Linked DNA regions of Homo sapiens: all the other regions are linked to region 2. Evidence: fine-mapped expression QTL. A gene starts in region 2. Each other region holds a variant in brackets. All regions are shown on one strand. Distances are between the middles of the regions. Region 1 overlaps PTPDC1 (protein tyrosine phosphatase domain containing 1). Region 2 holds the start of PTPDC1 (protein tyrosine phosphatase domain containing 1). Region 3 has its middle 110 kb from the start of MIR4291.

Evidence for each region. PIP is the estimated chance that this variant, and not a neighbour inherited with it, causes the effect. A credible set is the group of variants that fine-mapping cannot tell apart.
Region 1: its variant is the best candidate, but not a certain one, in a credible set for the expression of PTPDC1 in nasal epithelium (TOPMed, PIP 0.90).
Region 3: its variant is the best candidate, but not a certain one, in a credible set for the expression of PTPDC1 in subcutaneous fat (GTEx, PIP 0.55).

What each region holds. Positions count from the first base shown.
Region 1 is chr9:94,105,748-94,108,417 of GRCh38, forward strand. PTPDC1 (protein tyrosine phosphatase domain containing 1) reads left to right here. Exons shown (of 9, transcript NM_001253829.2): 9 at 2,081-2,670. The coding sequence ends at 2,197. Among named protein-coding and RNA genes, the nearest start is that of PTPDC1, 23 kb to the left of the region's middle. The variant G/A (reference allele first, on the strand shown) is at 1,118.
Region 2 is chr9:94,083,413-94,086,082 of GRCh38, forward strand. PTPDC1 (protein tyrosine phosphatase domain containing 1) reads left to right here and starts at 1,052. Exons shown (of 9, transcript NM_001253829.2): 1 at 1,052-1,362; 2 at 1,839-2,010. The coding sequence starts at 1,119. RefSeq lists a silencer at 975-1,269.
Region 3 is chr9:93,711,704-93,714,373 of GRCh38, forward strand. No RefSeq gene overlaps it. Among named protein-coding and RNA genes, the nearest start is that of MIR4291, 110 kb to the right of the region's middle. The variant T/C (reference allele first, on the strand shown) is at 963.

The DNA of each region.
Region 1 (2,670 bases), 22 kb after region 2:
CACGAGGTCAGGAGATCAAGACCATCCTGGATAACATGGTGAAACCCCATCTCTACTAAAAAGAAATACAAAAAAATTAACTGGGTATGGTGGCAGGCGCCTGTAGTCCCAGCTACTCGGGAGGCTGAGGCAGGAGAATGGTGTGAACCCGGGAGGCGGAGCTTGCAGTGAGCCAAGATTGCACCACTGCACTCCAGCCTGGGCGACAGAGCAAGACTCCATCTCAAAAAAAAAAAAGTAAACAATTCACACCATTATTAATGTTAATAAGGAGTTTTTTGCAAAGGGGATAGATAATATAGTTATAGATAAAATTAAATTCCTGAGCTTAACTGAAAAAAATCCTTACGATTGGTCTCTCTGAAAGCAGTAGGAATTCTTTACAACTTCTTTTGGCCTTTTAAGGGGATACGAATGAAAAGTTAGAGATAACAGTTGTTCAAAATCTGTCTATAGAAAATGTTAGGAGACAGTTTTCCTTGGGTCTCTCATGTCTCTTCATAGTCTGATGAGCAGATGCCCTGACCACTCTCTTTGAGGATCAACTCTTCACTAATGTCTGGAGAGCTCTGCCTGGAGAGCAGAAGGCACACGTTCTGACTTCCAGGATAATAAAAATGTTTCCCTTCAGGGCAAAGGTTGGCAGATTTGCTTGCAGCCCCCTTGTGAAACATTGGAGTTTCCTAAGCTTGGGGCTCCTCAGCTATGAGGCAAACCCCGTGCTTGTGCAGCCTCCACCTAGGCCCTTCTGCATTGCCTCCATGAGACTTGAGAGACAAGGAGAACCCATGTGAACATGAAGCACATGCAGCTGTGAGAAATAAAAGTTGTCTGTCTCTGACCCAGGAATCTCGTATCTTCTACCAGTATCCATAACACTGGCAAGCTAACAGGTTAAGGTCTCAGATCCTTTACAGTTGTTGACAGAGGGAACAACCTTTCATTTGTCAAAATTTATCAGAGAGGGAGAAATTCCAGAAGCAGAGAAGCAGTGATTGTGTGACCCTGATTCTTTCCCAGGGAGTTACACATTACTCTGGGAATGGGGTTGAGGGTGGGTACTTGCTCTGGTTCTCTGTCCTGCCATCACTGCTAACCCAGAGTATGGTAAACTTGG[G/A]TGAAAAATGCAAATATGTGTAAATAGTGCGCTCCCATCAAGGGGAAAGGAAATTTACTTTATCAAGGTGGGGTTTGTTTGTTTGTTTGTTTGTTTGTTTGTTTTTTGAGACAAGGTCTCACTCTGTCACCCAGTCTGGAGTGCAGTGGCACAATCTCAGCTCACTGCATCCTCTGCCTCCTGGGCTCCGGCAATCCTCCCACCTCAGCCTCCCAAGTAGCTGGGACTACAGGCATGTGCCACCATGCCTGGCTAAATTTTTAATTTTTTGTAGAGATGAGGTTTTGCCATGTTGCCCAGGCTGGTCTCAACCTCCTGGGCTCAAGCAACTCTCCCACCTCGGCCTCCTAAAGTGCTGGGATTACAGGCATGAGCCACCACACCCAGCCAGTTGAGGTTTGTATATATGTGCCAAACATGTTAGACTCATAGATACGCTATCCTATGAAGGTGGGTATCATTATCTCTGTTTTACAAAGGAGGAGATCAAGGTCCAGAGAGGTTGGGTATGAGATGAGGACATGTAGCTGGCAGGTGGGGAGCTGGGCTTCTATTCAGGTCACTCTGACCCTGTCCAGAGTGGCCGTAGGGCCTCTCAGCAGGACGTATACAGCTGATGTGCTGTTTTAATATGGGAAACTTTTCTCTTATACCATCAATGATTAGTCTCAAAAAATTCACTTCACACCCACTGTTGACTTGCTTCATGACTGGGTGTATATAATTAGACTAAATATCCAGGCACTAGATTTAATTTTGGGGTTTTCATTCATAAGTTTGATATTGACATGGTTGGCAGTTCTAATAGTCTTTCAAATAAAATGTGTGAAATTTATTATGTGTATTTTATATAGAGTTTTGTTTGTAAGTCTGTTTTTTTTCTCCACCCCCTCCTTCTCTCAAAATAGAAACTAGTTCAAATTCTTGTTACAGTGTCCTGAATATAAATTTCTTTGTCACCAGGTTAATTTTGATTCTGAAAATGGACCAACAGTTTACAACACCCTGAAGAAAATATTTAAGCACACGCTGGAAGAAAAAAGAAAAATGACAAAAGATGGCCCTAAGCCTGGCCTCTAGCTTTCACTCGTGGTGAATATTTCAGACCTAAAGATCCAGATAGTATCTCTGTTCATATGTGAATAAGTTGAAGATTGTGGGGCTACTTTTTCTCATAGCACTTTATTTTGAATGTTGTTAGTTTGTGCTGAGAATGGTCGTCCGTATTTGAACCAATTATTTATTTTAAAATATATTTAAGCTACATTTTTGTTTTGAAAAATTGCCATAAATTTGGTGCCACTTTCTTTTATTTATTTGACTGAGTTAATATTATTGTATTAACATTTTAAGTATATGGTGTTTACATTCTTATTTCTTTTGACATTTTGGAAATAATCATAACTTGTCTTTCCAAAATAACCATTTTCTTGATGGAACTCTTCCTAGAGTTTTTACCAAATAGCTAACTTTAGTAGTAAAACCTCATTGTGTATCCATTCCCCCACAGATGAACTAAGAAAGTCACCAAGTGTCTTAAGCTGTTTTATATT
Region 2 (2,670 bases):
GGGCGGCATTTTAAAAGGAGCTTGGTATAGCATTAGTAATCGTTAAAAAAAAAAAAATAGAAAATAGCCTTATCTGTAGCAGTACAGTAGTTTGTTTCTGTGCACACACATCTGAAATACCACTTGTGCAGAGAGCTAGCGAGCAAGCGAGGGCGCAGCCTGACATTAACAAGGGAGGAGGCGGACAATGAGTACATTAGTGGTTGTTGCACTTTCTGTTTTCTTTATATCCTTTATCTTCAAGTTGCAACCTCCCCCTCATCTAGTTCCTTTAAAAATGTGATATTTAGTGATCTTTCTTTGTATGCCTCTGCCAAGACATTATTGAAGCTTCTTTTTTCCCTCACTGCAACAAAAGGCAGAGAATGGTGTTTTGAGTTTTTGAGAGGCATGGCTACTATAACTGTCCAACAGAGGCATAACTAAGAATTGGGTTTTTATATTCTGAAAATGAACACATGAAGTTAAATGTCTTCTGATAATATATCACCTCTAAAAATGTCTTTATTTGTTCTATCCAAGTATTTCTTTAATAGTTTTACCAAGAAAAAATAGAAGTGGTTTTGGTTATGAAAAATTGGATGATATTTTAATAATCTTGTAAGGTGTCCAGCATATCCCACTTTATTACAATTAACTTTTTTCTGCACTATTCAAACGAGGAGTAGAAAGGTAATTTTTTTCAAAATATCCAGAGACAGGTTGTGAACAGAATAACAGAATTTAAGCCTTTTAACATGTATGTAAAAGGCAGTTTTTGCATCAGGAAGACAGTTTTCTAAATTCACTACAGTATTTTGGGGAGTAATTCTTTGGTTAGATATTTTAAGTGCATTTGAGAAACAAAATTTAGTAATCAATATATTTAAAATTTATATTATTCTTCCCTATATTTGAACAATTTGTCCAAAATGCAATCTGTTCATATTGGATTTTGCCTGTTCAGATCTAAGTGGGAATCAGTAGTTTCTTTGTTTGTCGCCATGGAAACCAGTCAGCCAATCTGAATGGCTCTTAGATCATACAGAACGATGCAATGCTCCCTGCTCTCAGTGAAAGTTCCTCACTGAGTGAGTGGGGCTGACTCTTCCTGCCTCCGGCTCTTGCCTCCCAGTGCCATGCAGGTGCAGGATGCAACCAGGCGGCCCTCAGCCGTGCGCTTCCTCAGCTCCTTTCTCCAGGGCCGCCGGCACTCCACCTCAGACCCAGTACTGCGGCTGCAGCAGGCCCGGCGGGGCTCTGGCTTGGGCTCCGGCTCTGCCACGAAGCTGCTGTCCTCGTCCTCTCTCCAGGTGATGGTGGCTGTTTCCTCAGTCAGCCATGCAGAGGGAAACCCAACTTTCCCCGAAAGAAAAAGTAAAGGTCTCTTTCTTCTTATAGATTGCCATACCTATGTATATAAGTTTGAGGAATGGGAATCAGCTGTGTTGTGTTTATACCTTTTTAAATATTGGCAGTTTATTCTATATTATACTTTTTGCTGTCTGTTATGCTATTTTAGTGAATATATAAGAGGATATAAAATGATCAAATGTTTTGTGTTTTTTTATTAAAAATATAGGTTTGAACAAAACTCATTCTCTTGTAAAACATCTGCTTCTACAGTTTCTTCCTCCTAATTGCCAGTATGTGTGGAGATTATTATATGTGAAAGCTTTTTTACATTAAGAGATATATGTCACTTTGACAGGGAAACAGTTTTGTTTTCTTGACAAGATGAAGGTGATTTTGCACTGGCTTGTCATCTACCATCCTGAGATAAAATGGAAGCTATTTCCCATGTTACAATTTCATTTGGAGAGTGGAATTTTGAATTTTCCTTTCCTTATATGTTCTAGGAAATTTAGAACGTCCAACACCAAAGTACACAAAAGTAGGGGAGCGTTTACGGCATGTCATTCCTGGACACATGGCATGTTCCATGGCGTGTGGCGGTAGAGCTTGCAAGTATGAGAACCCAGCCCGCTGGAGTGAGCAGGAGCAAGCCATTAAGGGGGTTTACTCATCCTGGTGAGTGATCCTGTTGGTCTTTCATAGCTCTGTTGGATACAGGAAGGACACTCTGTGTGAGCCAGGAGCCCTGAAGTGTGGGAGGAGCAGTGTGGGACTTTGAAGTCAGGACCTCACTTTGCCAGTCAGTTCTGGCTTTGCCTTAGCTGTGTGATCTTGGCCTATTGACCCTCAGTTTCTTTATCTGTAAGGTGGAAATAATAAAACCAAAACCATAGGGTTTTTTAATTAAGTGAAATGATATATATAAAGTGTATTGAAGAAATGGATAATTAGATAGCTCTTAAATTTCAGAAATGTTTAGAAATAATAAAACTTCAGCTATAAATTTGAGAAAATTATGATGTACATGTGTAATTTTTCAGTTTCATGTAGGTAAGCTTTAGCTTTTATGTTATTCCTATATTCTATATGAAAGGTCACATTTTCATACAAATACCCTTCAGTCTACCCTAATAAAAGTGGTACAAGTTGTCAGCTCAGTAGAAAACATAAGATATTTGCTTTTTTTATGGTGTATAAGTGAAATTAATATTGTTCTTTAATCATACTGCTTTTTATTAAACAGTAAACTAGTCAAATACACCTTTTTGATGTAGTAACATCTGAAAAATTCTGATAAATCACATTTGAAGCATACTTAGAGGAATTCACTGTTTA
Region 3 (2,670 bases), 370 kb before region 2:
TAAACTGGGACCTACACTCTTAGCTCCCTTGCTTCTCAGGTGTCTGCACTCAAACTGGAATTACAGCACTGCTTTCCTGGGTCTCCAGCCTGCAGACACCACACTGCGGGACTTCAACCCCTCCGTAAACACACAAGCCAATGCTTCATAACGCATTGCAAATGCCTTCTCATATATATATATATCTGAGAAAGAGAGAGGACATAGAGATTCAATATATGTTTATATATCTCAGTGTGTGTGTGTGTGTGTGTGTGTGTGTGTGTTATGTGTGTGTGTGTATAATTAGCCATCAGGGAAATGCAAACTAAAACCATAATACCGCTGGCCAGGAGTGGTTTTGAGGTGTAATCCCAGTACTTTGGGAGGCCGAAGCAGGCAGATGTCTTGAGCTCAGGAATTCAAGACCAGCCTGGGCAGCATAGTGAGACCCCATCTCTACAAAAAATGCAAAAAATTAGCTTGCCATGGTGGCATGTGCCTGTAATCCCAGCTACTTGGGACCTGAAGTGGGAGGATCACCTGAGACTGGGAGGTTGAGGCTGTAGTGAGCCAAAATAGTACCACTGAACTCCAGCCTGGGTGACAGACTGAGGCCTTGTCTCAAAAGAAACCCCCCGAAGCAAAAAAAAAGAAAACAAAAAAACACCCCACACTACCACACTATATATGGTGTGGACAGAGGAATATTCTCTTGGTTCTGTTTCTCTGAAGAGCCCCAACACACCAGTGCCTCTCACAGATTACTTCTAGTCATCACATGAAAACAAGTAATAGGCAAGAAAACAGGGGACCTATTACCTGCTTTTCACAGACGGTGAATGTGACTTGTAGGGAGCACATCTTACCCAAGGAGGCAGCTCTGAAGTTACCCAGAGAGCACAGGAACCCAGTTCTTTGTGACTCAACACTAAGGGGTTTTCACTGCCCCAAAGCTCACCCCATACTTGTTGAATGAAAAA[T/C]ACACAAATGGAAACAAGCCATAACCAGCGCTGTGGCCTGAAGGGCATGATGGAGGTGCATGAGCTGTCTGTCCCCAGGGTGAGCAAGGCCAGAGGTCAATTTCTTGCAGTTTCCGGGAAGAGATCTTTTACCCAACTCCCTGACATTTTTCTTGGTGGCAACTTCCCAGCTTCCCTGGCTATTCTCTTCCCAAGGTGACATTCCAGAATGCCAGCACCTCAACAGACAATATTCTGAGGGATCAGGGCTTTTTGCAGAATAATCCTGGCTGGTGACTGGGACAAACCTCGGTTTGTGGCTGCAGGGAAGTGGGTAGCGCAGGGGCTGCCCAGGTGGGGTGCAACGTGGGCCCCAGACCGTCTGTCTCCATTCCATCACAGCAACTTCTTTCCCCTTGCGGGTGTTCCTGGCAACTTCCTCCATGAGAGGAGATCTATGAGCAGACCCAGGCGGAGCCAAGAACTTGTGAATGGTCCAAGTGCCTTTAGGTCCAAGTGCCTTCCCCATGAGGAATGGAGCCGTGGCGGGCAAAGCCTCCTTTTCAGCACACATCCCCTCAAAGTCCATTTGTCCCGGGTTTATGGGCACTGCTTTTTCAAAGGCATGGGTTTTCAAAGGAGGTTCAGCTGCATTCCTGGGGCTGACCTGGTAACAGGCAGTTTTTTGAGATAATGTCACAATTTTCTAGTTGGACTTCATTGGTTCTGGGGTCAGGGATTGGTACTATGGAGGGGAGTCCCAGGAGGTTGAGACAAAGAGAAAGGTTTCCAGAGTTGGGTGTGGTCCCCTGCTCCAACAGTGTGGGCTCTGCCGTGGTGAGTGGGAAGCATCATTTTGTTACATTGCTGATTATCTTAAATTACATTTTCTATCTAGAGTTAAGTGTAAATTCACATGCAGTTGTATTAAATGATAAGAGAGATCCTCGTACCTTTTTACCCTGCTTCTTCCGACGGTAACATCTTGAAAAACAACTGCAGTACAGTGTCACAGCCAGGATACTGACATTGACACAGCGCAGACACGGAACACTTTCATCATCCCAAGGATCCCTCATGTTAAACTTTCATAGTCACATCCACTTCCTTCCTTCTCACCCTGTCCCTGACCCTGGCAACAACTAATTTGTTCTCCATTTCAATAATTTTGTCATTTCTAGACTATCATAGACATGGATTTATATAGCATATAACCTTTCCTGGTTGGCTTTTTTTCCCTGACTCAGCATAACTGTTTAGAGACTCATCCACAATTTTGTGTACATCATAACTTCCTTCCTTGTGGTTGCTGAGGGGTGCCCCATGGTATGAACATACCACAGGTTAGCTCCGCCCACTGAAGACTATCTGAGCTGTTTCCAGCTTTCAGCTATTACAAATAAAGCTAATATGCCTGTAATCCCAACACTTTGGGAGGCCAAGGCCGGCGGATCACAAGGTCAGGAGATCGAGACCATCTTGGCCAATGTGGTAAAACCCCATCTCTACTAAAACACACACACACACAAAAATTAGCTGGGCGTGGTGGTGCGTGCCTGTAGTCATAGCTACTTGGGAGGCTGAGGCAGGGGAATCATTTGAACCCGGGAGGCAGAGATTGCAGTGAGCTGAGATCATGCCACTGCACTCCAGCCTGGCGACAGAGGGAGACTCTGTCTAAAAAAAAAAAAAAAAAAATTAAAATGTTTCAAAAAGCTGATATGAGCAT